Homo sapiens: one gene and its partners. The protein of the gene in region 1 purifies or fractionates together with the protein of each later gene. This does not show direct contact. Each region holds a gene or a part of one and is shown in the gene's direction. Other genes may lie near its edges.

Evidence for each region.
Region 2: the proteins of ARHGEF25 (region 1) and CCDC86 purify together in Homo sapiens (affinity purification with mass spectrometry, with the first as the bait; one large-scale study listed by BioGRID). This does not show direct contact.
Region 3: the proteins of ARHGEF25 (region 1) and SLX9 purify together in Homo sapiens (affinity purification with mass spectrometry; one large-scale study listed by BioGRID and IntAct). This does not show direct contact.
Region 4: the proteins of ARHGEF25 (region 1) and POTEE purify together in Homo sapiens (affinity purification with mass spectrometry, with the first as the bait; one large-scale study listed by BioGRID). This does not show direct contact.
Region 5: the proteins of ARHGEF25 (region 1) and PPP1R12A purify together in Homo sapiens (affinity purification with mass spectrometry, with the first as the bait; one large-scale study listed by BioGRID). This does not show direct contact.

Annotation. Positions count from the first base shown.
Region 1 is NC_000012.12:57,612,832-57,618,928, forward strand, and holds the end of ARHGEF25 (rho guanine nucleotide exchange factor 25), read left to right. Parts: exon of another isoform or gene 1-65; intron 66-98; coding exon 99-313; intron 314-432; coding exon 433-528; intron 529-608; coding exon 609-685; intron 686-862; coding exon 863-929; intron 930-1,184; coding exon 1,185-1,288; intron 1,289-1,499; coding exon 1,500-1,569; intron 1,570-1,684; coding exon 1,685-1,774; intron 1,775-1,857; coding exon 1,858-1,950; intron 1,951-2,135; coding exon 2,136-2,186; intron 2,187-2,405; coding exon 2,406-2,483; intron 2,484-2,680; coding exon 2,681-2,881; intron 2,882-3,005; coding exon 3,006-3,186; intron 3,187-3,452; coding exon 3,453-3,664; intron 3,665-3,952; coding exon 3,953-4,063; 3' UTR 4,064-4,414; downstream 4,415-6,097. UniProt on the Homo sapiens protein: May play a role in actin cytoskeleton reorganization in different tissues since its activation induces formation of actin stress fibers. It works as a guanine nucleotide exchange factor for Rho family of small GTPases.
Region 2 is NC_000011.10:60,845,561-60,851,581, forward strand, and holds the end of CCDC86 (coiled-coil domain-containing protein 86), read left to right. Parts: intron 1-2,363; coding exon 2,364-2,493; intron 2,494-4,379; coding exon 4,380-4,454; intron 4,455-4,645; coding exon 4,646-4,765; 3' UTR 4,766-5,521; downstream 5,522-6,021.
Region 3 is NC_000021.9:44,959,118-44,965,403, forward strand, and holds part of SLX9 (ribosome biogenesis protein SLX9 homolog), read left to right. Parts: intron 1-982; coding exon 983-1,051; intron 1,052-6,286. UniProt on the Homo sapiens protein: May be involved in ribosome biogenesis.
Region 4 is NC_000002.12:131,206,637-131,213,391, forward strand, and holds the start of POTEE (POTE ankyrin domain family member E), read left to right. Parts: upstream 1-2,899; 5' UTR 2,900-3,183; intron 3,184-4,391; 5' UTR 4,392-4,547; intron 4,548-6,755.
Region 5 is NC_000012.12:79,790,679-79,796,964, reverse strand, and holds part of PPP1R12A (protein phosphatase 1 regulatory subunit 12A), read left to right. Parts: intron 1-14; coding exon 15-183; intron 184-1,205; coding exon 1,206-1,327; intron 1,328-3,036; coding exon 3,037-3,102; intron 3,103-6,286. UniProt on the Homo sapiens protein: Key regulator of protein phosphatase 1C (PPP1C). Mediates binding to myosin. As part of the PPP1C complex, involved in dephosphorylation of PLK1. Capable of inhibiting HIF1AN-dependent suppression of HIF1A activity.

The DNA of each region.
Region 1 (6,097 bases):
CTGAGCATCATGAAGAGAAGACCCTGGGAGTTCCCTGGGGACCCTGAGTCTGGAGCTGGGGCAAGGTCTATCACCTCCTCTCTTTTTCCTCCCATTAGAATCCTATTCCATTGCGGGCAGTGAGGGGAGTATATCGGCTTCTGCTGCCTCCGGTCTGGCTGCCCCCTCTGGCCCCAGCTCTGGCCTCAGCTCTGGCCCCTGTTCCCCAGGCCCCCCAGGGCCCGTCAGTGGCCTGAGGAGATGGTTGGATCATTCCAAACATTGTCTCAGTGTGGAAACTGAGGCAGACAGTGGTCAGGCAGGACCATATGAGGTGAGCAGGGAACGGCACCAAAGCATGTGGGACATCTATGAAGGACACTGGCAGAGAGGGCAAGTTGGGGCCACCCAGCTACTGTCCCCGACCTCTGACACTTGATTTCTGGCCCCCAGAACTGGATGTTGGAGCCAGCTCTAGCCACAGGAGAGGAGCTGCCGGAACTGACCTTGCTGACCACACTGTTGGAGGGCCCTGGAGATAAGACGCAGGTGTGAGGACAGGCTCTGGGGAGGCTCCTTTCACTCAAGGGGCATTCGTTTGCTCACCCTAGGATGTTCTTTCCTTCCAGCCACCTGAAGAGGAGACTTTGTCCCAAGCCCCTGAGAGTGAGGAGGAACAGAAGAAGAAGGCTCTGGAAAGGAGTATGTAAGTGTCCACAGCCCTTCCCTGCAGTTGCACAACTTCCAGAAGACTGTCCCTCACATTTTAGATGGAATTTCCTCCAAGGTTGGCTATGATGATAAAGGGGAGGAGGGAGGAACGGGCTGAACCAAGGATGAGCTCCGACGCTGAAGTGGGGGCCTCCTCCTGCTTTCATCCTAGGTATGTCCTGAGTGAACTGGTAGAAACAGAGAAAATGTACGTGGACGACTTGGGGCAGATTGTGGAGGTAGCTCCCTTTACCCCTTCCCAGCCCCTCCTGCCTGCTTTTCCATCTGCCCAGGGCTATTTTCAGGAGGTGCCTGGGCGCTCCTCTGTCCCACCTCTCAAGCCTCCCCACTCCTGGACCTTCCTACTCTGGGGGCAGGGCGGCTCCCACCAGGGAGGGGGAGGTGGAACACACCCTGGATTTGTGTACAGGAGCACCATTAAGGTGGGGAGAGGGCCACCACATGCTCATGACCCAACCTCAACTTTCCCACAGGGTTATATGGCCACCATGGCTGCTCAGGGGGTCCCCGAGAGTCTTCGAGGCCGTGACAGGATTGTGTTTGGGAATATCCAGCAAATCTATGAGTGGCACCGAGAGTGAGTGGTGGAACTCTGACAGCTAGGTGCTGGAGAGGGGCCCTCATCTGGTTGTCCTGTATCCTAACATCAGCCCATTGCGACTTAAGGAATGTTTGGAGAAGTTTTGTAGGGCACACTACCAGGGCAGACAGCTCGAAACTGCTGGGAGTGGGCGAGGTGGGGGTTGTGAAATGTATTTGACCTGCTGCTTCTCTACCAACCCCTCCAGCTATTTCTTGCAAGAGCTACAACGGTGTCTGAAAGATCCTGATTGGCTGGCTCAGCTATTCATCAAACACGTGAGGCTTGAGGGGGCAGGGCCTGGGGCGGGGCTTAGGAATGGGCTGGGATTCTCTGGAGATGCGTCCTCCCTCCTTGCCCACCCTGCTCTCTCTTAAACATTACCCCTGTTAGGAGCGCCGGCTGCATATGTATGTGGTGTACTGTCAGAATAAGCCCAAGTCAGAGCATGTGGTGTCAGAGTTTGGGGACAGCTACTTTGAGGTCAGTAGCTGAGATGTCTTGGTGGGAAGGAGGACAGAACTGGGGCTTTCCAGGCTGCATAACCACCCTGTCCCTGTCCCCAGGAGCTCCGGCAGCAGCTGGGGCACCGCCTGCAGCTGAACGACCTCCTCATCAAACCTGTGCAGCGGATCATGAAATACCAGCTGCTGCTCAAGGTCAGGACCCCCTTTTTCCTGGGGGCACAGCTGGCTGGCACAGCTGTTTCCTCATTCATCTCCCCAGGGTTCTTAGGGCTCCCCCAGACTTCCTGAGGGCCCTCACTGGTGTCCTCAGGGGAGGATGTGAGAGCTTCTAAGGGTGTCCTCGTGACCTCCCTGAGCATTTCTTCTCTCTGTCTTAGGATTTTCTCAAGTATTACAATAGAGCTGGGATGGATACTGCAGACCTAGAGGTGAGGACCCCAGATCTTCCAGGACACACCATGTGCTCCTTATCCTCCTAGTATCTCATGGGTTCCCCCAGCCCCTTGGGTGGTTTACAGCTGTCTGGTTTTTAGGGGGAGGCTGGTTGGGGTTGAGATACCGTCTGAAGAGGCAACTGGCCGAGGAGGCCTCTTTCCCAATAATGACTCTCTTCGCCCAACAATGCGCCTCCCTCACCTGTGTCCCAGCAAGCTGTGGAGGTCATGTGCTTTGTGCCCAAGCGCTGCAACGATATGATGACGCTGGGGAGATTGCGGGGATTTGAGGTACGGAGATAGGGCAAGAAACTGGAGGCCCGATGCTCTTCTGCCCCAGCCCTAGCATTCAGGAGGTCCTTATGGGGAGTTGTCTTCTCCTGGGGCTGACCCCATGGTTGGTTGGGCATGTCAGGCGAGGAAGGGAGGAGCAGAGAATTGTCCTTTTTCTTGTTCTTTTTCCAAGGCCACTATCCTTTTGGTTTCAGGGCAAACTGACTGCTCAGGGGAAGCTCTTGGGCCAGGACACTTTCTGGGTCACCGAGCCTGAGGCTGGAGGGCTGCTGTCTTCCCGAGGTCGAGAGAGGCGCGTCTTCCTCTTTGAGCAAATCATCATCTTCAGTGAAGCCCTGGGAGGAGGAGTGAGAGGTGGAACACAGCCTGGATATGTATACAAGAACAGCATTAAGGTGGGGAGAAGGCCACGAGGGAGGGCTTGGAGAGAGAGAGGGCATGAGGCCTCTGAGAGGATGTCTCAGAGGAGCCAGGGAGGGCCTGAGGAATCTGGGGGCTGTCTCCTATCTGCCAATTCAGGTGAGCTGCCTGGGACTGGAGGGGAACCTCCAAGGTGACCCTTGCCGCTTTGCACTGACCTCCAGAGGGCCAGAGGGTGGGATCCAGCGCTATGTCCTGCAGGCTGCAGACCCTGCTATCAGTCAGGCCTGGATCAAGCATGTGGCTCAGATCTTGGAGAGCCAACGGGACTTCCTCAACGGTGAAGCTCTCATCCTTTCTTCCCGATGTGCTCTCTCAGCCCCTTAACCTCCTGAATCCCTCACTGCCCAGTCTCCAGTACCTACCCTCTGACCATGGCCCATCCCCTTTTCCACTGCTAGCTCAAAATTTGATAGAATCCCCTAAAGCCCTAAGCAATTGACATTGGCTGACAGGGAGGGAGGGCAAAGTGGGAGAATGATACAGGCCCTAGGGAGCAGACCTGTCTCTGCGGTAACCCTCCTTCTGTTCCTCTCTTTGCTCCAGCATTGCAGTCACCCATTGAGTACCAGAGACGGGAGAGCCAGACCAACAGCCTGGGGCGGCCAAGAGGGCCTGGAGTGGGGAGCCCTGGAAGAATTCAGCTTGGAGATCAGGCCCAGGGCAGCACACACACACCCATCAATGGCTCTCTCCCCTCTCTGCTGCTGTCACCCAAAGGGGAGGTGGCCAGAGCCCTCTTGCCACTGGATAAACAGGTATGACGAATAGAGCTCCCTCATTGTAGGGATAAAAAGGGGAGAGCCTCTCTTGTTCTGGGACCCCAAGTTCCCTCCCCATATCATTCCTTCCTTTTATCTGGTCCTTCCTACTTCCCATCCCTTACGCTTCTCCCCTCTATTTTAACTCTGGAGAAGCTGATAGTCTCAGACAGTCTAAGATATCTAGCAAGAGGAGGTGGCTTGGCTAGGGACTTAAACTGAAAAGAGAGAAGTGAGGGTAGATTTCTGGCCTTTTTGATCCTCTGACTTGAATCTTTTCTTCAGGCCCTTGGTGACATCCCCCAGGCTCCCCATGACTCTCCTCCAGTCTCTCCAACTCCAAAAACCCCTCCCTGCCAAGCCAGACTTGCCAAGCTGGATGAAGATGAGCTGTAACTGGTGAAAACCATGGGGGTGGTGCTGACTCAGCCGCCTATTCCCCAAGGAGCTTCAGGGCAGTCCTTCTGGCACTGCTCCAGAATTCCTCCTTCTTGGTGTGTCTGGAGGGTGGGCAAGGCTGGGAGGGATATCAACTTGGAGGAGAACACCTAGACCCAAGGACTTTTTTCTGCCCAAGGAACACAGTTTCCTTCAGCTCCCATCCCTATGCATGCATCATGGTCCCCCCAAAAGGAGGATATGTGGGTGGGTGGGAGGGCTGGGGCAGGGGCCAGATAGAAATTATTGGTTTTGTTTTTTAATTTTGTTTTTCCTGTTTTCTGAGAATAAAGGTTTTGTTATATCACCGAGGCTGCTGTCTTGGCAGAGGGAAGGGGAGGCTGTAGTGGGGGTAGGTGGGGTGAAGTGATATGGAAGAGATCGGTTGGCCCCAGCCATTGGAGGAGGGGGTCTGGTGAAAGGAGAAGGGGACAGGGTGTAAGATAAAAGATGTTGCTATCTTTGTCCCTCAACTGCAGTTGCAGCAGTTGAGGGACAAAGACTGAGGCATGGAACCACTGGAAAGCCCTTAGATTCTTCTTCTTCCCTTTTTTTTTTTGTAGAGTTAGGGTCTCACTATGTAGCCCAGGGTCTTGAACTCCTGGGCTCAAGTGATCCACCAGTCTTGCCCTCCCAAAGTGCTGGGATTGCAGCCATGAGCCGTTGCATCTGGCCAGCCCTAGATTCTTGATGTATCCTCTTTACCCAGCCCTTCTTTTTCCCTACCCACCCTCTGGTCTAGACCCCACCAGAAAGCCCAATGCAGTGTGACTTCTCACCATTCCCCCAACACCCAGATACGAAAGCACAAAATGCCAATGTACCTTTCCTTCTGAGGCTACCATGTTCAGCTGAGGGAGGATGGGAAGGTGGAGAGGATCCTGGGGGCTGAGACCTTTTCCTGGCTCTGGGTCTCCTTATCTTTGCTCTCTGCGAGGTCATAAGCCATGTTCATAGTGAGCAGAAGGGGATTCTTCTTCAAGCCATGGACCCAAGAGCGGACAGCCCAAGGGGATCTTCACCCCTCCCAACTTCTGGGAGAGCCGCTGGAACAGAGCGAGCCAAACATTCACACAGCCATGTCCAGATGCCCTGTCCTGGGTCCTTAATGCATCTCCGAGTCCACTGTATCCATTCGTCCCTTGGGCTCAGTCACGTGCACTTGGGCTTCCTCAACAGACAATAGACTGCTGGGGTGGGAGGGTGAGGAGGAGACCTGGAGCCTCCCTGTGGGCCCGAGGTCCCTTTAGCCGATAATAGGGAGGGATTCCTAAGGGGGGTACAGGATGTAGCGCCCAGATAAGACTTCTGCGGAACAATAGGAGGAACTGAAGAAGGGAGACCCACCCTCACTGCACCCCACCCCCCGGGCTTTGGGGTCGTGGACTGGGGGACCAGAGGATCATGGGGAGGGGTGCCGAAGATTCTTGTGAATGGGGGTGGAGGATCATGGCAAACAGCAGGATTCTGGAGTTAGAACCTTTATATTTCTTTAGGAACCATAGGGACACATGAGCGGGGTGGCTGACCCCTTTGAACTTAGTTTGACCACATATGTGCTTTTGAATGCCTACTTTGTGAACAGCATTTGTTTTTTGTTTGTTTGTTTTTTGTTCTTTTTGAGATGGAGTCTTGCTCTGTCGCCCAGGCTTGAATGCAGTGGCTCCATCTCGGCTTACTGCAACCTCCACCTCCTGGGTTCAAGCGATTATCCTGCTTCAGCCTCCTGAGTAGCTGGAATTACAGGCACCTGCCACCATAACCAGCTAATTTTTGTATATTTTAGTAAAGACAGGGTTTCACCATGTTGGTCAGGCTGGTCTCAAACTCCTGACCTCAGGTGATCCACCTGCCTCGGCCTCAAAGTGCTGGGATTACAGGCGTAAGCCATTTCACCTGGCCTGTGAAAAGCATTTGAATGTGATAAATGGTGCTTCAGTTTTTTTGGTTCCTAAGAAAAAAATATCCTGTGGGTTCAGTATTTCCCCTGAG
Region 2 (6,021 bases), on another chromosome or scaffold:
GGAAGCAGCTCCTGCTGCAGGGAGGAAGACAGCCGCAGCTGGGAAAGTGTATGTGGTGAGGGAGACCTGGCTGCAGCCCTGTCTTCGTGCTCATGCCAAACGCCACTTTCTCCATAGTGCCCTTGGGCATGCTGTCTGCCTTCTCTGAGGAGTAGCATTTATGGAGCACCTATTACGTGTGTGTGTCGATTAAATCTCCCACCACCCTTTGGGTTAGGAATGATTCTCATCTCCACTGGACAGGATGCTGAGACTTAGAGAGGCTACCTTGCTCCAGGTCACCCAGGTTGGACTTGGAACCCAGGCCTGAGTTTCCTCAATACCCAGGTAGAACCAATGGTCTGGAACTGCCCTGCCTCAGTACCTTAGCCGCCAGCCACATGTGGCTATGTACATTTAAATTAATTAAAATTAAATAAAATTTAAGATTCAGTTTCTCTATCAACACCAACCACATTTCTAGCGCTCAGCAGCCACCCATGACTAGTGGCTACCTTATTGGACAGTGTCAATGTGGAATGTTTCCACCATCACAGAACGTTCTGTTTGACAGCCCTGCTCTACACAGATGCAGCACTGTGTCTTGTGGTTCTGTGTGTCTCTAGGCTCCCAACACCTTGTCCCTTCAGGGTTCTCGTACCCCAGCTTGGGAAGCCCAGCTTTACAGTTATGGGGGAAGTCCATGTGGCACCCCATTCTTAGTGCTTAGGAGGCCAGGCCTTCAGTGGCAAGGCCTTGGGAAGGGGAGAAGGAAATCAGGGAGCTGGGGCCAGAAGTCGGCAGGGCCAAGGGACACCAAAATGGGCCTTGAATCTTTAAAAGAGAAAGACCTAATTTCAGCATGTGGAGGCCACCGAGAGACTTCTTTGCATTTTGTTTTTACTTTTTTTGAATGGAAATTTTCAAGCATACAAAGAAAGAGCAAAGCTCTCAAGTCCCCATTATCAGCATCAACACAGCTCAGCATTTTACTAGTGTAGCTTCATCTTTGATACTTGGCTTTTTTTTCTTTTTTTCTTTTTTTTTGTTTTGAGACGGAGTTTCATTCTTGTTGCCCAGGCCAGAGTGCAATGGAGCAATCTCGGCTCACCGCAACCTCCGCCTCCTGGGTTCAAGCGATTCTCCTGCCTCAGCCTCCCAAGTAGCTGGGATTACAGGTGTGTGCCACCACACCCAGCTAATTTTGTATTTTTAGTAGAGACAGGGTTTCTCCATGTTGGTCAAGCTGGTCTCGAACTCCCGACCTTAGGTGATCGGCCCACCTCAGCCTCCCAAAGTGCTGGGATTACAGGCGTGAGCCACTGCGCCCGGCTGATCTTTGGCATTTTTTTTTCCCTGAAATATTTTAAAGTACATCCTAGACATATCATCCCATTCATAAATCCTTGTAGTATGCATTTTTACAGAGATGAGCTCAGTTCTCCTGTAACTCTAAAATCATCGTTGCTCTTTTCAGATTTCCCTGAGAGCCCTGATGCCCACTTCATCTCCAACTGGGGGAAGAGATTCTTTTTCTTTTTTCTTTTTTCTTTTTTTTTTTTGAGACAGAGTCTTGCTCTGTCACCCAGGCTGGAGTGCAGTGGCGCGATCTCGGCTCACTGCAACCTCCACCTCCCAGGTTCAAGCAATTGTTGTACCTCAGCCTCCCAAGTAGCTGGGACTATAGGCATACACCATCACACCCAGCTAATTTTTGTATTTTTAGTAGAAACTTTAGTAGGTTTTAGTAGGCTTAGTAGGTTTTGCCATGTTTGCCCGGCTGGTCTCCAACTCCTGGACTCACGTGGTCTGCCCACCTTGGCCTCCCAAAGTGCTGGGATTACAAGCATGACCACTGCATCCGGTCTTGGCGGGGAAGATCCTGAATCATTACCCAGAACTTTAACCACTCACACTGTTCTGAAATGGAATGGGCCACCTCCCTAGGGGGTGAGCGCCCCGCCTCCAGAGGCATTCACACCCGGGCCAAATGCACTTGGCGGAAGCAACAGAACTTTACAGCAGGGGCCGCGTAGCCTGGACTCTGCAGTCGCTGACAGGATTCAAGTCCTGACTGCCACAAGGTATCTTTAGGCAGCTATTTAACCTCTCCGCGCCTTGGCCTGCTCCTCTGTAAGTGGAGAGGATAGGAGTACCCACCTCAGAGGCATGTAGCCAAGGCTTGAGAAATGGCAGCCAGCACGATCAGGGTTCCCTCCCGCCCCAAGTTTCTGCAGCCCTGGAAGGCCGCCTGTCAGGCCAGCAAGGAGGTGGTTCTGCCTGGGCTCTGGGGAAGAAGGTCCAGAGCCTCCGGCCGAGAGGAGACAGGGCATGGGTGGCGCTTGCCCCACAGACCCTGTATGCACCCACTCTCCCCCTTTCAGATTCTCCCAGATGCTTCAGGACAAGCCCCTGCGCACATCGTGGCAGCGGAAGATGAAGGAACGACAGGAGAGGAAGCTGGCCAAGGACTTTGCCCGTCACCTGGAGGAGGAGAAGGAGAGGCGCCGCCAGGTGAGGGGCCAGCCAGGCTGAGGCTGGGGCTCAGAGGACTAAGCTAGTGTCTACTGGTACAGACCTGAGGCGAGGGCCTCCACGGGTGCCTGGGGGAGGCCGACTTGGTTAAAAAACGTTCTTGAATCTGAAGGCCGGAGGGAGGAAGGGCACCTGGCCAGAAGCAGAAGTGCAATCTGGGACTACAGGGCAGGGAGGCCCAGGGGACCATACAGTTTAGCCTGGGCTGCTGAAAGAGCCTCAGGGACAGGGACGGAGGGGGAGGACCAGAAGCGGGCCTTGGGGAGAAGCCCGGGAGGAAGTCCTGGGTGGTAGGGCAGTCAGTGAGATGGGGTCGAGGGCCCTTTGCTGGGACGTACTCAGTTGGGAAGGGCTTGCAGATTTGAACTCCATGTCCCCGGTATGGCTGCTGTCATTCTCCAAGAAGCAGCCCACACACCAGCAACGTGGATGGCCCCCGCACCTTTCCTCCACTTCTGTCCCCTGTCACCCATCCCAGAGCCAGGAAGCCCCTGTAAAGGGTCACAGCCTCACCCACATCTGCCAGGGACTTTTAAGCGGGGGGAAGAGGGCACTCAGCAGGCAGCATGCAGAGAAAGCGGAGTGGCATTGGTCAGCTCCTGCCCCCCAGGGCAGGGCAGTCAGTGGGAGATTCCTCCTCCACTCCTCTAATGACCCAGGCGTGTAGGAGGAGTGCCGAACGGGATTCAGACAACTCATCCATAGTCCGTGGTCCCAGGCTGGCCACTGAGAAAAGGGGTGGGCCAGTCACTCAGTCATCTGTCCCCTGCTCTAAGTCACCCCAGCTCAGCTTACAGCTGACATCTGAGGAACAGTGTGTCCGCCACCATATGCTGAGGCCTTATCTCTTTTCCTGTGTGGCCCTGGCTCCCTCTTGGGCAAGACAGAGCTGCCGTCTCACTTCTCACCGTCCACTGCGGAGGTGCTCCTGCCCAGCCCCCAGCCCGGGCCTGCCCTGACCACAGGAGGCCAAGGCTCACTTCTCCTTCCTCCCCAGGGGCCTGGGCCACCCCTGCTACCCCAAGTCACCAAAGCCAGCAGAGACTCCTAACCATGCAGCAGCCTTGGAGCTGACGTCCCCACCCTGGCCTTGCTGAGGGACACAGTCAGCATGGCTAGAGAGCACTGGGCTTCCCCTCCCAAGACAGACTCCATCTAGAGTCTCAGTGTGCCCAAGGAGCTAGGGGCTGCTCCAAGTCCTGCACGTGCATTCCCTCATTGATTTCCCAAAACTATCTTACGAGGTAGATACTGTGGTCACTGTCACTTTAAAGATGAAGAAGCTGAGGCACAGACTTAGCTAAGGTCTCCTGTTTAGGAAATAACAGGATCCAGATTGAAACCCAGCCCAGATAGCTCCAGAGCCTTTTCTGTGCAGTGCAGCCCCTGCCCAGCCCCACACCTGTGAAAATCTCAGGGACCCAGCCCTCACCCCTAGCCTGGCATTCTGCAGCAGCAGGACTCCAGGGGAAGAGGGGGAGACTGTCGGAGAGGGTGGGAATGGGGGAAGGGCCAGCACCCCTTTCTCCCTTGGCAGTTGATGAGGGTGGCATGAGGGGTCACTGTCTGCATGTGCGTGAATCTCCAGGTGGGCACCCCCAGTGTCTCAGCCCCTGTCCTCAGTTGCCTGTCCCATACCCACCTCTCAACATGCTATCAGGAGCTTCCACCACAGCAGGCCCCTGGCACTAGACCGTGGCACAGGATTGCTAGCCCTCCACCCACACATCACCAACCTGGAGCCTGGCAGAGAGGGCCTTTCCCCTTCCTCCTGGGAATTCTGCCCGCTCGCACTCTTCTGGGGCCTGAGAGACCAGGGCTGCCTCTGCTCCCCGACTCAAATCCCCTTCTCCCACATGTTCCAGGAGAAGAAACAGCGCCGGGCTGAGAACCTGAAACGCCGCCTGGAGAATGAGCGGAAGGCAGAGGTCGTCCAAGTGGTGAGTGTCTCGTTTTCCCCCTCTGCCCTTCTGCCCCACTTGGGGGTGCAAACCAGGGCCTCGACCCCTGCCTCATGTACCCCCACTCTCATGCTACGATCTCAGGCCCCTGTGGGGCGGCCTTCCTCTCCCCTGGGAATTTGGACCGAGGCTGCAGCTGCACTAATGTCCTCCCCTCATACCACCCCCAGATCCGAAACCCCGCCAAGCTCAAGCGGGCAAAGAAGAAGCAGCTGCGCTCCATTGAGAAGCGGGACACCCTGGCCCTGCTGCAGAAGCAGCCGCCCCAGCAGCCGGCAGCCAAGATCTGAGCTCAGGACGGCCCGAGGCCTTCCATGGCCAACAACCATGTCAGACACAGCACCTCAGGCCGCTGCTCAGATGCCTCTGCTGGAGCTGGCACTCCAAACCCATGGCTCCAGAACAGGGACCCCCACCCCGACCGGGGCTCCTCGGCCTTTGAAGGCTTCCAGGCAGGTCTGTGTGGGACAGAAGCCCAGAGGGGGCCTGGGACCTGGCAGAGATGGGGGCGGGAAGAGATTCAGCTCCCATCCCTCCTTCCTCTCCTTCTCCAAGTGCCTTCAAACCAAGAACTGTACATTCTTCTGGTTCCTCAGTGAGCTGGTGACTGGCAGGTGACTCCCTCAGCAGTGTATGCCCTTTCTCAGCATCCTAGGTCCATCCCAGGCCTGGAGGCTGACAGTTGGGAATCCAGCTTCCCCCACACCTTCCCAAAGGCTGCTCTGAGCACCTCCACACCCCACTGCCTCTGTCCCCAGCAGACTGAATCCGGTTCCTCTCCACTTTTCAATACTGAAAGATTAAAATGGGGAGGTTGCAGGGAGCAGAGCTTTTCCCTAGCACCCACTTTCCCAAACCAGTCTCTGCAGAAGCCCCAGAGAATCTAACTCATGCCTGTCCAGTCTACAGCAAAAATATTTATTGAGTGCCTGTTGCATACAGGCACAATCCTAGGCACCGGCAAATACAGACAATAGACCAAAGTCCCTGCCCTCGAGGAGCTTTCATTCTGATGGAGAGAAAACATAATAAACAAGCAAAATGCACCACGTGTCCAATGGGGGAAGTGCTATGAGTAAAGGGGGAAGGGATGGGAGGGAGCAGGGGCGAGGTGTCAACACAGGGTGGCTCTGCAGCTAGCTGGGCACCTCACTGTTCCCTTTGCTCAGCACCTGCTGTGGGCCAGGCCTTCAGTGACCCTGGCCTTTGGTGGCAGAAAAAACACAGGACCAAGATCTCAAGAGTTTCTCATCTGCTTCTTCCACTGACATTTCATCCACCAAGCAAAATTCATTGACACCAACTTTTCGGTCCCTGGGCTGCAGAGCTCAAACACAGCAGTCTCTGACCCCAAGTCCACGGCAGGTGGAGGAATGAGACGGGGTGCAGTGGAAGTGATAGGTCAGAGGTGCAAGTTACCCCTCCCATCCGCAAAAGGGAAATGGTAGCTGCCCAGCCCCATGTGGCCTGGAGGCGGGGCTGCACAGATCTTGGGATTACCAGTGCCCAGAGGGATCCCACAGAACACCAGGCCGACAGGGAGGCT
Region 3 (6,286 bases), on another chromosome or scaffold:
GGGCCTTGGAGGTTTCACACCGGCTCCTGAAGTGAAGTCTGAAATGCAGAGCGCAGCGACTGCCTTTCTCCAGGCAGGGCTTGCTTCTGCTTTGTTTTTCATTAGACATGGTGGATTTGTTGGACAAGCCAGGAAGGTCTGCATGAATTAAAAGAGATACTGGGAGATGTGTTCTGGGGAGAATGCAGCCGAGGCTGAACCGTCTCGGGAAATCAGTTAAGGCCGAGGAAATGGGGGTGCCCTTGAGTCCACTCTGTTTCAGAGCAAACTGGAGTCAGAGACGCAGCACCCAGTGCCCTCTCCACCTGTCCCCACCTGCACGGCCCTGCAGGCTCATCCCACCCCTGCCCCTGTCCCCCCAGCAAATGAGCCTCCTTTCCCCGCCCACCGGGCAGGTGGCTGGGCTCCGCGTGGACCAAGCACAGGGGCACCTGTGGAGTTCACTTTTGGAGGCTCCCTGAGAGGGCCGCTTTGTGGGGTCCAGGGATGAAGCCTCTGGTCACCGAGCACATTGTCGGGCCTGGCAGGGGGCAGGGAGCACGTACGTCGCTGGGCCTGACGTGACCACACAGGATCTTGGGGATGTCCCCCTAAGGGCCTCTGTCCTGTTCGTGGCCCCCTTCATGAGCCGTCGGGCATTCCTGCATGGCTTCACTGCAATGACTGCCCTGACAGTCATTCGGGGCATGAGTGGGGAGGAGGCCTCCTTGTTGGGACACCTGCTTTCCGGGGCAGGCTGGGGTGAGTGGCCAGGCCATCACTGCGGGGGGACGCTGCTGAGAGAGCCTCCTGAGGCCGGGCCGAGGCATGCTGCAGGTGCCCCTGGTGCTGTCCAGAGCCGGGAGTCTGAGAGGCTGGCACAGGCCAGACCAGTTGCAGTGACTGTGGCAGCTCTGCAGTCAGGACCCGCCCCAGCCCATTCTCAGGTCATGGGAGTGCCACCTGGACACGTTTTGCTCACTCCCGTGTTCTCTTTCCTCAGGTGCAGAGGCCAAGACCGTTTTGCCCAAGAAGGAGAAAATGAAGCTGAGGCGTGAGCAATGGTTGCAGAGTAAGTCCATGCCTGCGTCTTGAGGCAGCTGCCGGCCCAAGTCCCATCCCGTGGGCCCTCCTATTCCTACAGCCTCACATCTGGCCTTCTACATCAGCCACACTCCCCGAGGAGTGCCCAAGGGGATCACCCAAGACACTTCAGAGGCTGCTGTGGGGGCCGAAGGACAGTGGAGGCACAGAGAGGTTGGCCATGAAGACTTGGCAGCATGGCCAAGCTGGTCTGGCCTGTTGTGGATGGCACTGCCACCCCGTCCGTGTGGGCACCTGCAGAGCTGGGCTGCCTCCCTTTGGAGGACGGCCTTGGGAAGCTGCTGCTCTCGGCTCCTTGTTTGTAAAAATTACCTATTTTTGTTCCCCACCGTGAAATTTTTTATTGTGGAAGTAACCTGTGCTCGTGGAGTTTTTATGGTTCAGAAGTGCCTGCAGTGGTATGTGAAATCCTTCCAGGCCTTGCCCGCGGTGAAAACAGTGTCTGCGCATAGCGGCGTGGGTGTGGGCAGGGCCCCTGGTGTCCCCAGACCCTTTCAGGCCTGTGGCTCCCTCTTTTCTGAGGTCAGCCTTGCCACGTGCTCCCAGCTGCACGTCTCCGCAGGCTGAAAGCCACACTTCCCACTCAGGTTGTTTTGGAGTATCTCCTTATTTTTCGTGATGCTGGATATTTGCCAGTGTTTTTCTAAGATTGTTTCTCGTCAAAATTATTTTGTATTTTTCGGTTATCTTTTTAGTGTGATTCTGCTGACTTTGTGAAATTAATTTGGAATATTTTCTTTTTTATGTTATCTGCTTTATTTTTTCCTTGGAGGTTTTAAAGAAAATGTATGTTTTTCAGAGGTAGGACCTAGAAAACTTTGTCAGTTTCTTTTGTGATTATTAGTTTTATGGTTTCTATCCCTTTTTGGATATTTCTTAGGGAAATGATTCATTCCTCCATTTTCTTTTTCACAGTTCCTAGCATAGCTGTGAAAGTGGATTTGGACGGGCTACTGGACTGTGGCCATTTGGACCCTGATTTTCTAGGCTGTAATTCTTTGATGATGTGTAAATTTTATTCCATGGCACTTGGTCCTTTTTTTTTGTTTTTTCACAACTTGAGTCAATTTTGGCCACTCATAAAATGATCGAATTTGTCTGAGGATGGTGTCTCATGCCTGTAATCCCAGCACTTTGGAAGGTTGAGATGGAAGGATCACCTACGCCCAGGAGTTTCAGACTAGCCTGGGCAATATAGCGAGACCTTGTCTCTACAAAAAATGTAAAAATTAGTCAGATTAGGTGGTGTATGCCTCTGAGCCTCTAGTCCTAGCGACTTAGGAGGCTGAGGTAGGAAGATCGCTTCAACCCAGGAGTTTGAGGCTGCAGTGAACCGTAATTGCACTAGTGCACTCCAGCCTGGGTGACAGAGTGGGTCCTTGTCTCTAAATAATGTTAATGATCAAATTTAGTCAGATCTCAATCTTCATATGTTAGTTGCCTTCTTATTAAATATTCTGTTTTCTTTATCGTTCTTTATTTGTATCTCCACCTTCATTTCTGATTAAATTAAGAAGTTTTGTCTCTTCCATTTAATAATTAATGTATTTAATAACCAATTCTACTCTTTTGTCTTCAAAATTATTTGTTTTTATTTTGATCACTCCCGTTTTAGCTTTCTTTGGGTTTCAGTTACTCTGCTTATCTGTTTGTATATGTTTTGTTCAGGAGTGAAAGGCTGTAAGTTATCTCTAAATACAGCTTTAGCTACATTTCCCAAGTTACTTTTACTTTGTATTTTATTATGAAAAATTTTATTTAGGAAAGTGGGAAGAATTTTATAGGGAATACCCTGTACCCACCACACAGATTTTACAATCTTTATTACATAACCGTTCATCTAGCAGTTTCTGTCCATCTACCAACATGGGTTTTTAAAAATGCGTTTCAAAGTAAATGGCAGACATCAGTACACTCCACCCCAAATAATTCTGCTAGAGTTCATGGTTCTTTTTTTTTCTTTTTCTTTTGAAGATTGTATTTACATAAAATGAAATGCAAATCTAAAGTGTGCCATTCAATGATTGCTGACAAATGTTGTAGACACCTGTGCAGCTGAAATCCTGTTCAGGTTATGGACCATCACCACCATTCCCCGACAGTCACGCACCCCCCCAGTCAATTACCTCTCCCACTGGCCCCAGAGGTAACAACTGCTGTGTCACCCTTTGTCGTCCACAGTTGAGCTTTTCTTGCCTTAGACTCTGTATAAATGGAATCATGTAGGATGCACTCTTTCTGCATCTGGCTGCTTTTGCTCAGCGTAATGGTTTTGAAACCCATCCAGGCTGCATGTAGCAGCAGTCCATGCCTTTTGATTGCTGAGAAGTATTTCATTGTATGAATACACCATTTGTTACTCACTTTCCTGCTGATGGGCACCTGGGCTTTTTTCCATTTTTAGCTACTGTGAATAAGGCTGCTCTGAACATTCTTTACAAGTCTTTTTGTGGACATGTTTTCGTTTCTCTTGGGTAAGTGCTGAGGAATGGAATGCTGGGTCATAGGGTAGGTGTATGTTTAGTTTTATAAGCAGCTGCCAGACGCTTTTCTAGAGTGGTTGTACACTCACACTCCCACCAGAGCCTGTGAGAGTTCTCCTGGCCCTCAGCTTTGCCAACACATGGCCTGCCGTCTCCTCAGCCTCGGCCGTCTGGTAATCATGAAATGGTATCTCACGGTGGTACTCATTTCCGTTGCCACCAAAAGAGCATTTACATGTGCTTACTGTCCATTTGTGTTTCAGCGTCAGTGAAATTCATTTTTCATGAGGCTTTTTGTCTTTTTATTATTGAGCTCTAAGAGTTCTTTGTCCTAGAGTCCAGTCTTTGGTTGGATATGTGTTTTACAGATGTTTTTCCCAGACTGTGACTTGCCTGTTCATTTTCTTTCTTTTTTTTTTTTTTTGAGATAGAGTCTTGCTCTGTCGCCAGGCTGGAGTGCAGTGGTGCGATCTTGGCTCACTGCAAGCAACACCTCCTGGGTTCAAGCGATTCTTCTGCCTCAGCCTTCTGAGTAGCCGGGACTACAGGCACCCGCCACCGTGCCCGGCTAATTTTTTTGTATTTTTAGTAGAGATGGGGTTTCACCGTGTTAGCAGGATGGTCTCGATCTCTTGACCTCGTGATCCGCCCGCCTTGGCCTCCCAAAGTGCTCGGATTACAGGCGTGAGAACTTTTTTTTTTTTTTTAAATAAACGAGAGTTTAATTTTGAGAAGTTTAATTTATATTAGTTATTGTGTGTGTGTATATGTATGTGTGTGTGTCCTATTTAAGAAAACTTTGCCTAATCCCAAGTCATGAAGATATTATTCCTGTTTTCTTCTAAAAACTTTATAGTTTGAGCTTTCATATTGGTTTTTTTTTTCTATCTTGAATTGTTTGTCTATGTGGTGTTAGTGGTTAAGTTCCTTTTTTCCCCCTAATATGGATATTCAGCTGTTCCAGCACCATTTGTTATAAGTACTTTTCTTTCCTTATTGGATTGTTTTGTTGCCTTTGTGAAAAATCAGAAAGTCTCATAAGTGTGGATCTGTTTCTAGGCTGTCTTCTGTTCCATTGATCTATTTGTTGTACCTTAGCAAAAACCAGACTGTCTTGATTACCATAGCTTTAGGATTAATCTGGAAGTCAGATAACATAAGTCCTTTTTGTTGGTTCGTCTGTCTTGAGGTTGTTTTGGATATTCTAAGTCCTTGGCATTTCCATATAAATTATCATTAGCTTGTCTATTTCTTTAAAAACAACAACAAAAACCTAGTGGGGTTATGATTGGGATTTCATTGAATCTATAGATCAGTTCAGAATTACCATCTTAGCAAAGCAGATCTTCAAATTCATGAACATAGTATATCTCACCATTTAAATTTCATCATCAATGTTATTCAGTTTTAGTGTAGAGATCTTACATCTTATAATAAGCTTATTGCTAAGTATTTTATAGTTTTTTATGCTGTCATAAATGCAGTTTTTTCTCAGCTCTCTGCTAGTATGTTAAAATACAATTGGTTTTTTAAAATACTAATCTTGTATCCTATGAATTTACTAATATCATGCATTAGGTCTGGTAGTCATTTTGTAGATTCCTTAGGATCTTTAGAAATGCATGTTTTCTGTATGTGTGGATTTTTTCCCTCAATTTGCTTTTTTTCCCCAATATGTGTTGAAATTTCCCCTGTGGATCTGCACGCGCCACCCCACCTTGCCTTTATGAGGACAAGCTTGCAAAGTTTGTCCTTGCTGTTCCTCCCGTTGCAGGGCCCTCCCACTCCTGGAGGCCTCCCCCGGTCACTCTCCATCCCTTGCTTTGCTTTGTTTTGTCCACATACCTCCCCAGTGCCCAGGTAGCGCCTCTATGCTCCACCACACAGCCTGTGCCCCAGCCGTGCCGTGGACAGTGGCTCCCCATGCCCTGTGGGCGGGAGGGTGGGTAGTTGGAACCACACACATGTCCCACTTGACTTTCCCAACCCTCAGTTGTCCTCCAAGGCGGCTGGGCCAGTTCACACCCACCCATCAGCTCCCTCCGTCCTCGAACACTCGATATTATGAAACATTTAAAAATTTGCCAGTCTATGAGGTGCAACATTTCCTTGATTTCTAATCCAGTCGAGTGGCTCCTGCTGTATTTTTTGGCCTTTGATTCCTCTTTGTTTTTAGTATTTAATTCATACATACTGATTTTTAGGAACAGTGTGAGAGGGACTCTGACTCTTTCCCCAGGAGGACCCCAGTTTATCTAACCTCACGTGTCATGCTCACACTTTGCCTGGTCTGCCCTGCGTCCACTGAGTGTTCATCAGCACTTTTGCCACGCTGTTAATTTCTGTTATTTTATAATTTGCTTTAATATCCGATAGCCCTACTTTCTTGTTGCTTGTTCTTTGTAAAAAATGTTTTTACTATTCTTATGCATTTAGTTGTTTTTAAAACATAAAGTTTAGAATTAGCTGCACAGGTTTGACTAAAAATCCCGTTGAAATTTTAGCTGAGGCAGCATCCGATTTTTCCGGAGTAACTGACAGAGAAGAACTGCACTCTCCCGTTGGTTCTCCTGGCTGCTTGGAAGCTGGTGTTTGTGTGGGACCTCCCCTAGGTGCTGCAGATGAGAGCAGTGCTGAGTGTTCCCAGGCCGTGGGTCCCGCCCCGCCACTGCCTCGCTCCCTCCCTCCCCCTCAGAATTGAGTGGGCCGGGTGGGATTGT
Region 4 (6,755 bases), on another chromosome or scaffold:
AGTCCTAGGTAGCGCAATTAGACAAGAGAATGCAATAAAAGGCATCCAAATTGGAAAAAAGGAAGTCAAACTGTCTCTGTTTGCAGGTGACATGATCATATATATATACATAGAGAAAGAGAGAACCCTAAAGATTCCACAAAATCACCTACAGGAAATAATTTAGTCAAGTTGCAAGATACAATATCAGCACACCCATGCACCAATAGTGAAATACCTAAGAAGGAAATCAAGAAAGCTATTTCATTACCAAAAAAATTATATCTAGGGATAAACTTAACCAAAAAGACAAAAGATCCCACAATGGAAACTCTAAAACACAGATGAAAGCTATTAAAGCAGACACAAGTAAATGGAAAGATATCCCATGTCCATGCACTAGAAGAATATTGTTAAAATGTCTATATCACCCAATGTGATCTAGAGAGTCAATGCAATCCATGTTAAATTACAAAAGACATTCTTCATAGAAATAGGAAAAAAAAATCCTAAAATTCACATGGAAACGCAAAATACCTCAGATAGACAAAAGAATCTGGAATAAAAAGAAAAGCTGGAGGCATCACACCTGACTTCAAAACATACTACAAATCTGTAGTAAGCATGGTAATACCAAAACAGCATAATACTATCAAAAAAAGGGGCGGGGGAGAAACAGAAACGAAGGAATGACAGACATAGACAAGTGAAACAGAATAGAGAAATCAGAAATAAATTCACACATTTATGGCGTACTCATTTTTAACAAAGGCACCAAGAACACACATTCGGGAAGGACAATCTCTTCAATAAACTGCTAGGATAACTCAACACCCACATGTGCAGGAATACATCTAGGCCGTTATCTTACCATATACAAAAATCTGCTCAAAATAAAGATTTAAATGTAGGACCTGAAACTATAAAACTACTAGAGAAGAAAACATAGGATAAATGCTTCATGAAACTGGTTAGGACAAGGAATTTTCAAATAGACATCAAAAGCACAAGCAACAAAAGCAAAGATGTAATTACATTAAACTTGTCAAAAGCACAAGCAACAAAAGCAAAGATGTAATTACATAAAACTTAAAAGCTTCTGCAAAGCACAGGAAGAAATCAGTAGAACGAAGAAACAACCCAGAGAATGGAAGAAAGTATTTGCAAACTATGCATCAGCCAAGGGGCTAATACACAAAATATATAAATAACTACTCAAAAGCAAAAATACAAATAATTTGATTAAAAAAAAATCTACCCCAAATCTTTGTCTCCCACCATTATTTTCCCACCTTCTTTTCCCGACCGCCTTTGGCCTCCTCCCCCTCGCCACCCGTTTTCTTCCTCCATCTACCCCAAAACTTTTTCCCCACCATTTTTCCCTACCGTCATTTCGCAAAGCCTTCTCTGCTCTCTCACTCACCACCCTTTTCCCCATCCACTTACCCACTTTCCCCACTGTTTTTTCCCACCGTCTTTTCCCTTTCTCCCTGGCCACCTTCTTTTCCCCCATCCCACTCTCATCACCCTCTTTTGCTCCTTCATCTAAGCAAAAACATTTTCTCCCGTCTTTTCCCAAACCCTTCTCCTCACTCCTGCTGCTCACCACTTTTTCGCCCTTCATCTACCCGAAAACTGTTTTCCTCATCGTCTTTTCCCCCGCTCCTCCTTGCCACCCTCTTTCCCTTCTCTACCCAAAAACATTTCCCCATAGTCTTTTCGCAAAGCCTTCTCCCCACTCCTGCTCACCTCCCCTTTTCCCCCTCCATCCACCCCCCAGAATATTCCCTACTGTCTTTTCACAGTCTTCCCCCCTTCCCACTCGTCCTCTTCTTTGCCCTATCCTGCTTGCCACTCTCTTTTTTGCCTTCCATCTACCCCAAACTATTTTCCCATTTTTTCCCCAACTCTCTTTCCCTGCTCCCTCTCGTCACCCTCTTTCCTCCTCCTCGTTACCCTCTTTCCCCCCACCATCTACCCAAACACTTTTTACCCACTGTCTTTTCTTTCTCCACCGTCTTTCTTTCCTGCCCACTATCTTTTTGCAAAACCTTGTCTTCCTCCCGCTGGCTACCCTTTTCCCTTCCCCCACCTGTTACCCTCTTTTCCCCCTCTATCTACCCAAAACCTTTTCTCCCCACTGTCTTTTCACAAAACCTTCTCTCTCTACTGCTCAACGCTGTTTCTCCCCCCCACCACCCTCTCTTTCCTCCTCCCTTGCCACCCTCTTTTCCTCCTCCATCTACCCATAAACATTTTACCCACCATCTTTCTGCAAAACCTTCCCTCCCTGCCGCTCCCCACCCCGTTTTTCTCCCTCCATCTACCCAAAAACTTTTTTTCCCACTATCTTTTCCCCACCGCCTTTTTGCAACGCGCTCTCCTGCTCACTATCCTCTCTTCCCTTTGGCACTAACCACCCTCTTTACCCCCTCCATCTATCCCAAAACTCTTTTCCTCCTCTTACCGCTTCCGCCGCACTGCCGTCTCGGTCGCGGTTACCACCAGTCGCAGCGAGGCGAGCCACGGTGTAGCGGCTCCAGCCTCCAGCGTACGGCTGGTGATTACCCATTCCTGGTCCTCTAAGCCGGGCACTGAGCAGCTCCACAGGAAAATACGGGAACGTGGAAGAGCCTGACTTCCCTTCAGCAGCAGGCGTATACCGCGGTTATATACAGGAGGATTCCTGACTGCATGTTCTGATTGGATGAGAAAAACCCTCCAGGGTTACTTGGATTGGACTTTATTATCATGTTCTGATTGGATGAGAGCCAGTCTTAAGACAACCAATCACAGCATGAAAATAAAGTCCAATCAGAGTAGGCCTAGAGGTTTTTCTCTCATCCAATCAGAACATGTAGTCTGGGAACCACATGTGCGTAACCTCAGTACGTAAAGCATGCGGAGGTGGCGTCAGGTCATTTCAGGCTCTTAAGTGTGGGCGTTTGGTAACCGGCATGGCTGCTACCTGTTTCTGGCTGGAGCCTCGGACACTGGCTCACTGCAGTTGGTGGTGTCCACAGAGCGGTAGGAGGGCAACTAGTAGCGGGAGCTTCTCCTGCCAGGCAGGAAGACGAGTAGAAGGGAGCAGCACCGACGCATGCTGGAGGCTGGAGCCTGAGCCCCTGGGGCTCGCCTTGCTGTGTTTGGTGGTGACGTGGGACACTGCAGCTCGGCCAGAGTGGTAGAAATGTCCTGGTGTAGGTGAGTTATCCGGGGATGTACTGCCCGCCTGTGGGGGCAGGGGTTGGGTGTCCTATTGGGGCTCACTGCCCGAGGCTGCACTGCCTGTGTCAGGGGGCTGGTTGGGGGCACTCTCCGAGGTTGCATTGCTGGCGGTGGAGGGGGGCGGTTTTGGCTGGCTGTCCGGGGCTACACTGCCCGTGGTGGCGGGGGTGGTGGGGGGGAGGCAGGTTGTGTGCACTAACGTGTACTGCCGGTGGCGGGGGAGGGGTTAGGGGCACTATTTTCTGCTGCACTGCCCGGGGCAGGGAGTGGTTTGGGTGGTTATTTGGAGCTACAATGCTGGCAGCGGGGGGTGGTTTAGGAGTGTTGTCGGGTGCTGCACTGCCCTTACTCAGGGTGCGCTATCAGGAGCTGCGCTACCTGTGGTGGGGTGGGGGCGGCGATTTTGGGGCACTGTCTTGTGCAGCAACACCTGTGGCTGGGTCAGGTTGTGGGCACTATCGGGTGCTACACTGCCTGTGGAAGGGGTGGTTGGGGGGGGGTATTGGGGTTACACTGCCTGCAACTGGCACAGGGTGTGTTGGGTGTGCTGTCCGGGGGCTACACTGCCGGCGGCAGGGGTCAGGTTAGGGTTGCTATGGGGGCTATACTGCCAGTGGTGTTGGTCGGCTGCAGAGGTGGTGGGGACAGCAACAGCCATGGTCTCCTTGCTCCTTCGGGTAACTCTTCTCTTTTCCAGACTCCAGAGTTCCTGCTCGTGCAATCTTGAGCAGGGCAGGGCCCCCACACCCACTGCGGTTCTCCGGCCTGCACCTCCCGCCCACACCCCATGCTCTGTGTTGGGGAGACCACCTGGGACTACCGGGTGGGGATTAGTGGGCATCGCGGGGGACTGTGGGAACAGGGCACTGTGGGTGGAGGTGTCAGGAACGGGAACCAGCAGTTGAGTGGGGAGGGCTGGCTGGGTCTGAGTTTCTCCTACTCCTGCTCCCCAAGGAGTGCAGCCCTGGTGGGCCCAGCAATTTCTGGCCAGTTGCACCTGGATGGGGGTGGTTTCAGCATAGGCACTCACACCCGCCCCAGTTCCTGGCCACCTTTTGCCAGAAAGAGAGGCTGGACTTCGGTGGGTGGGTGTGAGTGCCTTAGCTGAAGCTGGTCCCTGCCACCCAGTGGCCAGCATGACAAGGTGAGGCTCTAACGTTACCACTCCCTGCATCCCATTCTAGGCTTTTCTGGCTTTGCCGGTCTAGCTGCTCCAAGCCAGGCTGGAGGAGGAGGAGAAGGAATCACCTGTGGTACGCTGGAGCCTGCATGTGGCGTGACTCTGCAGCTCGCCTCGTGTGACTGATGGCAGCCACGGAGACTGCAGCTCGACAGGAGTGGTAGGAGGGTGCCCGCGGGGGCAAGGTGGTAGGAACCTTGTAGGGTGGGCTGCTGCATTGACGGCGACAGCAACTGTATTGGCATTGGTGCTAGTGGTGGTAGTGGCAGAAAGTCTGGGGACTGGGAAGGGGGAGTAGGAGCACTGCAGGGCCCAGTCCGACCTGGGGTGGGGAGGAACCTGCTGGTGCTGTACCATGGGCCTCGGTGGCAGTGGTGGAGGTGCACTTAGGGAAAGGAGTCCTCCCCCTTCTCTTGCAATCTCTGGAGGGTGGCCTCCTTCTGAGCCAGGCATGAGTGGCAGCATTGTCTCATTCTTAACAAAATTTAGGGGGTGACTGTGTGTGTGTGTGTGTGTGGCTTTTTTTTTTTTTTTTTTTTTTTTTTTTGAGACAGAGTCTCGCTCTTTTGCCCAGGCTGGAGTGCAGTGGTGCGATCTCGGCTCACTGCAAGCTCTGCTTCCTGGGTTCACCCCATCCTCCTGCCTCAGCCTCCCTAGTAGCTGGGACTACAGGCGCCTGCCACCACGCCCAGCCAATTTTATTTTTGTATTTTTAGTAGAGATGGGGTTTCACAGTGTTGGCCAGGATGGTCTAGATCACCTGACCTCATGATCCGCCCACCTTGGCCTCCCAAAGTGCTAGGATTATAGGCGTGAGCCACCACTCCCGGTCATTTTTTCCTTCTTTTTTGTTGTGATGGTCTTGGACTTTTTCAAATTTTGTGAATTGGGGAGGGGATAAAAGGTGTCATAATAGGCCTTCTAATTCCTGCACCTGTTCTTTTTGCTTTTTCTAGTCTGTGTATTCTTCTCATCTTCTTGTTCCTCTTCATTTTCTTTTGCTGCTGCTTCTATTTCATGTTTCTATTCTTGTTTCTCCTCCTCTTTTTGTTTTCTTTATGCCAAGCAATGGCCTTAACAAACAACAAGCCAAAATTGTCACTGTGTTGTATTTTTAAAATAACTGGTCCTTTACTATGTTTTAGGGATGAGGAAAAAAATCAGTTGTATAATTAGTTACTTGAATAGCTATGCTTTCATGATTGTGTTAAACCACTTATGCCTAGTGTTCCATTATTGGAATGGTAAGCATGAGGGAGTTAATTACATCCTACTGCTCAAGGTCATTAGAAGGTTTGATTTTTCACTCGTGCAAAAATTCAAAAAATTGCAGCCTCTGGCATAAATGGGCTAATGCGTTATAAGTAGTTATTCAGAGAATCAAAAAATGAAGCATCACATAAAAATATTGGTGGCAAACAGCCATTTCATCTCTCTCACATATTTGGAGCTATGCAGGAGTCACGGGGTAAGTTCTAATTTATGAGATTATTAAGTGAACTGTATTGCCTTCATTTTCTCTGCCACCATTTCCTTTGTTTTCTTTCTTTTTTTTTTTGAGATGGAGTTTTGCTCTTGTTGCCCAGGCTGGAGTGCAATGGGGCGATCTCGGCTCACTGCAACCTCCGCTTCCTGGGTTCAAGCAAGTCTCCTGCCTCAGCCTCCCGAGTAACTGGGATTGCAGGCATGTGCCACCATGCCCAGCTAACTTTGTGTTTTTAATAGAGATGGGTTTTCTCTATGTTGGTCAGGCTGGTCTTGAACTCCCGACTTCAAGTGATCCACCTGTCTCAGCTTCCCAAAGTGCTGGGATTGGAGGTGTGAGCCACCACGCCTGGCTCTCTGCCACCATTTTCAAGAGTATTGCCATCTGCCTGAGCAAACCTGGTTCATCACCACCTCTTTGCAAGAGAAAAAGGAAGTCGGGAGAATTGTGTGTAATTTTTTTTTTTTTGAGATGAAGTCTCGCTCTTGTCCCCCAGGCTGTAGTACGATGGCCCGATCTTGGCTCACTGCAACCCCTGCCTCCTGGGTGAAAGCAGTTCTCCTGCCTTGGCCCCCTGAGTAGCTGGGATTATAGGTGCCTGCCACCACGCCCGGCTAATTTTTGTATTTTTAGTAGAGATGGGGTTTCACCATGTTGGCCAGGCTGGCCTAGAACACCTGACCTCAGGTGATCCACCCACCTCGGTCGGCTGTGTGTATTTTAAGGCAAAGATTCACAACCAAAAACAAGGCTTTATTAACTTTTGTATCTAAGAACCTGCAGTGTCGAGCCCTCTTTTATTCCTAGTATTACTACTTTAGGTGTGAACTTTTTATCTTTATTTTACTGATTCCTCTAGAAGTTTATGCATTTTCTTGACTG
Region 5 (6,286 bases), about 22 Mb from region 1:
TTAATGTTTCACAGACTTACCAGCGTTATAGGCCAGTATCAACTTCAAGTTCAACCACTCCATCCTCTTCACTTTCTACTATGAGCAGTTCACTGTATGCTTCAAGTCAACTAAACAGGCCAAATAGTCTTGTAGGCATAACTTCTGCTTACTCCAGAGGAATAACAAAAGAAAATGAAAGAGGTAAGAATACCAAATTTTGAAAACACTTTGCTTTCTTCATATAATCCTTTGGATTAGGGTTTCCTAAATAATAATTCAACAGTAAAGGAACAGCATCCTAACTTGTGATTCATCGAACCTAAACAGAAAGAATATGAAGGTTGAGAATGAGAAAAGTAGAAAACAGAAATAGAATATGGCCTGCTGTTGATACTAATATTTTTATAACCTAATACTTCACAAAAATCTTCATGTCCACCTACAACGAAAAGTTAATATCGAACTGGTGGGTGACTATTTCTAGAAGCAGTTTACTAGTGTAGTACTTCTCAGATGCTTTAAGCTATTTCTTGCCTACTGTGTAGATCATATCATTTAAATGTTTTTTTGTGAAATTGTTGTAAACTAAAATTACTAACTACATGTAATGCTCTCACTAAAACACATTTTTATGCTTATTTCTTAAAAAATACATTTCTTTCTCAACTATATATTGGCATATTGATACTCATTACCATTTCCTATTATTTTATATAAACTTTCTATTTAAATTCTGAGTAATTCCTACTTTAAATCAGATATAAGTACTAAATATAGGCATTTCATATTTTAAAGCCTAAATCTTACAGTATTAGTCATGATAATATCAGTAGTAATGTAGAATAAACAGCAGAAAATAAAGTTTTTTCCCAATTTCCAGCTATATATTTTCTCATGTTGATCATTGAGATGTTTCAGTTCTTTAAACTTCTATGTGTGAGGCCTGCATTGTGTTTGTAAAAATGTTGAACCAACATTTAAAATTAGAGATACTCACTTCAAACTTCAGATTTTTGCCATTTCTTGAAAAGTTGGCTGACCTGGCAACACTGGATCTGAATTCTCACATACCAACAATTGGCTGGAGCTAAGTAGTAGCAGCTGCCTACCTTCCATCCCCCTAGATAGTCCCCTGGCCCATTTTACCCATTGTTTTTACAATTACCTTGCAAAATATTGTCAAGATATATTGCTATATTGTGGTTCATTGCAATCCTTAACAGAGGGAGAAAAAAGAGAAGAGGAGAAAGAAGGAGAAGATAAATCACAACCTAAATCAATCAGAGAACGACGACGACCAAGAGAGAAAAGAAGATCTACAGGAGTTTCATTTTGGACACAAGATGTGAGAACCTATTAAAATACATTATTTGATAGTATTCTTGATAGTATTCTTAATGTGTCCAAAAATACATACTAATAATTTCTTATATGCCTTAGATTTCATATTCCTTAAATCATCACTGTGTTTTCTGAGTTGTTAAATAAGAAAAATTATTTTTAAGGATAGTTAACTACTTAGATTGTTGGTACTACTTAAAAGGAGTGGTTCTGACCTAATTATGGAATAGAAATAATAATGTCTGAAGCTCAGAGTGCATGTATTGATTATTTTATAATAGGTAAACTGCTTCTTGTAAAAACATCTTTTAAGAATTTCTAAGGAGTCTATTTAATTTCATTTTCATAAATATCATTATAAGATCTACATTACAGATTACTTCCATCTCAAAGCATGCTAAATAGACACAGTGCTTTGCTTATCAAATTACAACAGTCTTGTAAAAATTAGTGTTTTCCTGGTCCTTGATTGTAGGCCTGACATTGCTATTCATTGATTTTGTTTCCATTTTCTAAAAAATAAACCTTTTATTGAAGTATGGCATGTTTAGAAACATAATTCATACATGTATAGCTTAATGGATTAGCACAATAGGAGCATATCTATGTAATCACCACTCAGAATGATGAATAAAAACAGCAGTGTAGATTGCCCCCATGTTCTCCCTCTCAATCCCTATCATCCTCATTTTCAAAGTCAGCTAGTATCCTGATTTCTAACACCGTAGTTAACTATGCCTGTTTTTGAAGAGCATATGACTAGAACTATAAATTTTATAACTGTTATGTTTATAAGATATATCTATGCTATTTTATGTAGCAGTACATTTACTTCTATTGTTATAAAAATATTTTTTAAAGAAAATTTCTAACTATTCTTTCACTGAAAGAACATGGAATCATCTGTCTTCCTGTTAAACTGACCCATCTCTCACTATATGTTCCTCTTTATCTCTAATATTATATCTGACCTTAAATTCTGCTTTTTTGAAAAGCTTCCTTTTGATTATCTTTGTATAATATATCTTTTCTGTTATTTTCAATTTATTTGTGTTTTTTTTAATAAACAACATATTTAGGTCAACTTTTTTCTGAACTTTTTTTTAATTGCAGTGTTTCAGTCCATTTTAATTTTACTTAATTACTAATTACTTAATTACATGAAACAAATAACATTGTCATTTGCAGTTTAAAATATATAAAGAGCTAAGGCATATGAAAACAATAGCACAAAAATATGGGAAAGTATTAAATGGAGTTGAAGAGTTTTAGTATCTTCGCATTGTCCATGCTGTGGACAAAATATATATTCAACTTGATGAATCAAGAGTGCATATGTCTATTTAAAAAAGTTTAAAAAGAGAGGGAAAATCATACATAAATGACAAAGAAGGGAAGAACAGATGGGGAAATCGGAAAATAGTTTTCTATTTTTCTTTTGATTTTTAATATAGAAAAGTTAAACATATACTTTATAGAAGTAACATAATAGTATAATGAGCCCTACCCCCAGTATTCATTTTTTCAGCTAAATTCCCACTCCATCTCCCAACTCCCATATTATTTAGAAGAAAATCCTAGACATCTCATTCTATCTACAAATGTCTCAATGTATATTCTGAGAGAGAAGGACTCCCAAAAATAATTTTAAAAAATAAATTTTGAAATTATTACTAAAATTTCCTAAAATATAAATTGGCAATCTGTTTTTAGAGTGATGAAAATGAACAAGAACAACAATCAGACACAGAAGAGGGATCCAATAAGAAAGAAACTCAGGTAAATACCATTACTTTTTGTATTGAGAAGTATTCATATTTTTTAATAATTACTTTTAAATTGCGTTTTATTATGTTTATTCATGCAAAGCAGTTATTGCATACTCTACCTACATGCTGGGTATGCAATATCAGTGTTTGCCTGGGGATCAGGATTAAAAGGACTGGGAAGGGTCACAAAATAATGTTTTGGAGGTGATGAAAATGTTCTGAGTCTTGATCCTAGCAGTGGTTTTATGGATATACAGAACTGCCAAAACTCACCAAATTGTACACTCTAAGTGGATGTAATTTAATGTATGTCATTTAACCTTCGGAGTTAAAAGAAAAAGCAAAAAAAGAAATAGTACCCTTGGCCAAAGGAAAATATCTAAAGGATAATCAGAAGTAGTGGAAATCCAGAAGTAGTAGGCTCAGATTTTATTTCTGTAGATTTTATTTCAAAGTTATGTTCTGGAGAATATAGGCATCTTTTAACTTTCTTTTACATATATTTAGAAATTTAGAGTCTCCAACAGATTTTTATGTTGAGAATCTAAAAGACATTTTTTTCCTCTCAGTACTGATGAAGGACCTAAAGCAAGTTTGAATGACAAGGCTGCACAGCCAGCAAGGGTTGAAAGTTCCCCCGACCCCCTTCCTGATTGTTTGGCTGTGTAGAAAGCTAAAAAATATTCAAAATATTTCTGTTCATATGAGGATAGAGCTGAACAACACGAGTCTAAACCTGGCACTGTCTAGCATGAAATAGCATTCTGGTCATATTAATATTATTTTCTTCATTTTGAGTTGAAGTTCCTTAATAGAGCTATTACATTTCTTTTTAGTCAGCAAGGATCTACAGTAATGTGAACAAAAGTTGGTTACCTGTGCTAGGTGACGGTGAACATTATTTTAGGGCCAAGTTTGCCTATTTTGACCCCACAATTTTATTTTATCTTTAGGTGGCCAGACAATGAGGAGTGAATTGGTTCTGAGGTTAAATTATTTGCAGGCCTAAAGCTTTAACTGTTACCTAAATTTTTTGGTTATCAGTTATCAGAACTCCCCAATTTACCTATGTCCCTTCTTTATTAAACAAGAGGGGAGGAAATTAGTAAACCATCCCCATCTGACACCTCTCATTGCCTTATCACGCAGACTCCAGCCCCCACCAGGCTGGAGTGGAAGGGAGATTGTCTGGCTTTTAAAGTTGTAATTTTGAAGCATATTGATGTATACTGTATTTTAAGTTTTACTGTTAAAATCATATGAGATACGTTAAGATGAAGAGGAACATTGTTTCTAAGACGAAAAGTTTTTTTATTTTCAATTTAAGTAGTTTTTGTTTACTTTAGATTGTTTAGAGTTCTTTTAAAGTAATGAATAACATATAAATAAATATAACAAATATAAATAACAATATGAAACCTAAGTCAAACTGGATTAAACAAAGAAAATGTATTGTACTCCAGTTATATTCTGCAGTCCTTTGTGTCAGCTTCATCCTCAGGCTGATGTACCTCATAGGGATAGGATTATAGTTGGCTTAGGATAGACAGGGCCTATCACTGAACTGTTGCAGCCATTTTGCTACCAACATGGGCCATGTGTCATCTCACCTAAACCTAGTAACTGCTATACCATGAGAAAAAGGAAGAATGGATGTAGATAAATAAATAAGGTGCAATGTATGTGCATAGATCAATATTTTCTATATTCACATAGATATTATGTGTCCAGAAAAGGTTGGTTAGATAACAGTGGTTATCTAGAGAATGGAGGGATGAGGAATTACACAGGAACTTTGTATACCATTATGTGAACTTTACAATACCATAGTCAGAAAGATATTTCTGAATATCTTTCTATATATTTTAATCTTTTTTATCTTTAAAAAGATATTTTTACTTTGGAAAATTAATCTTAAAATTTGGGGAACAAGGGCGTTATGCTAAATGAAATAAGCAAGTTACAAAAAGACAAGAACTGTGTGATTCCACTTATTTTATTTGGGTATCATAGAAACAGAAAGTAGAACCTTTGTTGCCAGAGCTAGGAAGAGGAGGACAAAGGAAGTTGTTCATTGGATATAGAGTTTTATTTTTGCAAGATGAAAAAGTTCTAGCGATCTTTTGCACAACAATATGAATATAATTAAAAATACTGAACTATATACTCTAAAAAATGGTTTACATGGTAAATTTTATATTACGTGGTTTTTACCACAATTCTTAAAAGTTTTTAAATAATGCTAGGCCGGGCATGGTGGCTCACACCTATAAGCCCAACACTCTGGGAGGCTGAGGTGGGAGGACTGCTTGAGCCCAGGAGTTCAAGACCAACCTGGGCAACATAGGGAGACACTGTCTCCACAGTAAATTTAAGAAATTAGTCGGATGTGATGGTGCATGCCTGTAGTCCCAGCTAACTAGGAGGCTGAGGCAGAAGGATCAGTTGGGCCAGGAGGTCGAGGCTGTAGTGAGCTGTGATCATATCACTGCACTCCAGCCTGGGAAACAGAGCGACACCTCATCTCAAAAATAGTAATAATAATCAGTGATAACACCATGATTTTTAAAGATAATGGAATTTGAGTGATTTCTCACTAGACTTTTTATTGTTAAAATTTAAATCAGTGAATGTAAGTGCAGACTATAAGGTAAGATGTATTATTTTTGTTTGATATGTAGACATTTTAGTTCAGGAATGGCCATTTTACTGAATTTGATTATCTTGAAAATTGAAATTTATTCTTTAAAATTGTTAGTTGTTGTTAAACCAAAGAATAAATCAATAAAAGAAAACATTACCTTAAAAAACAATGTAAGGAGCAAAGTTAAAATTGGTTTTGCAGAGGAAATTTACAGACTTTAGTAAAACATTTTTAGTCCAAAATAGACTTTAAACAATCCCAAAAGTAACCTAGTAATTTTACAGTATCTCCAAAGATAAATATAATGGGAAATCACTAATATTTAAATTAAGAAGTTTAACAAACCATTCTGAATAAATTATAGAATCAGTGAGTATTTCAATAGAAAAAGAAAAGGCTAAATTTGACTACTGAAAAAGACTACTTTGGCCCCCAGTAAGACTGTTTTACCTTATTAATCATTTCACGATTTAGATAAGACTTTCTGGAACTTCAGTGTAGCATACCACTTGCTTGAGAAAATTAAATTTCCTGTCACCTAATTGCTGAC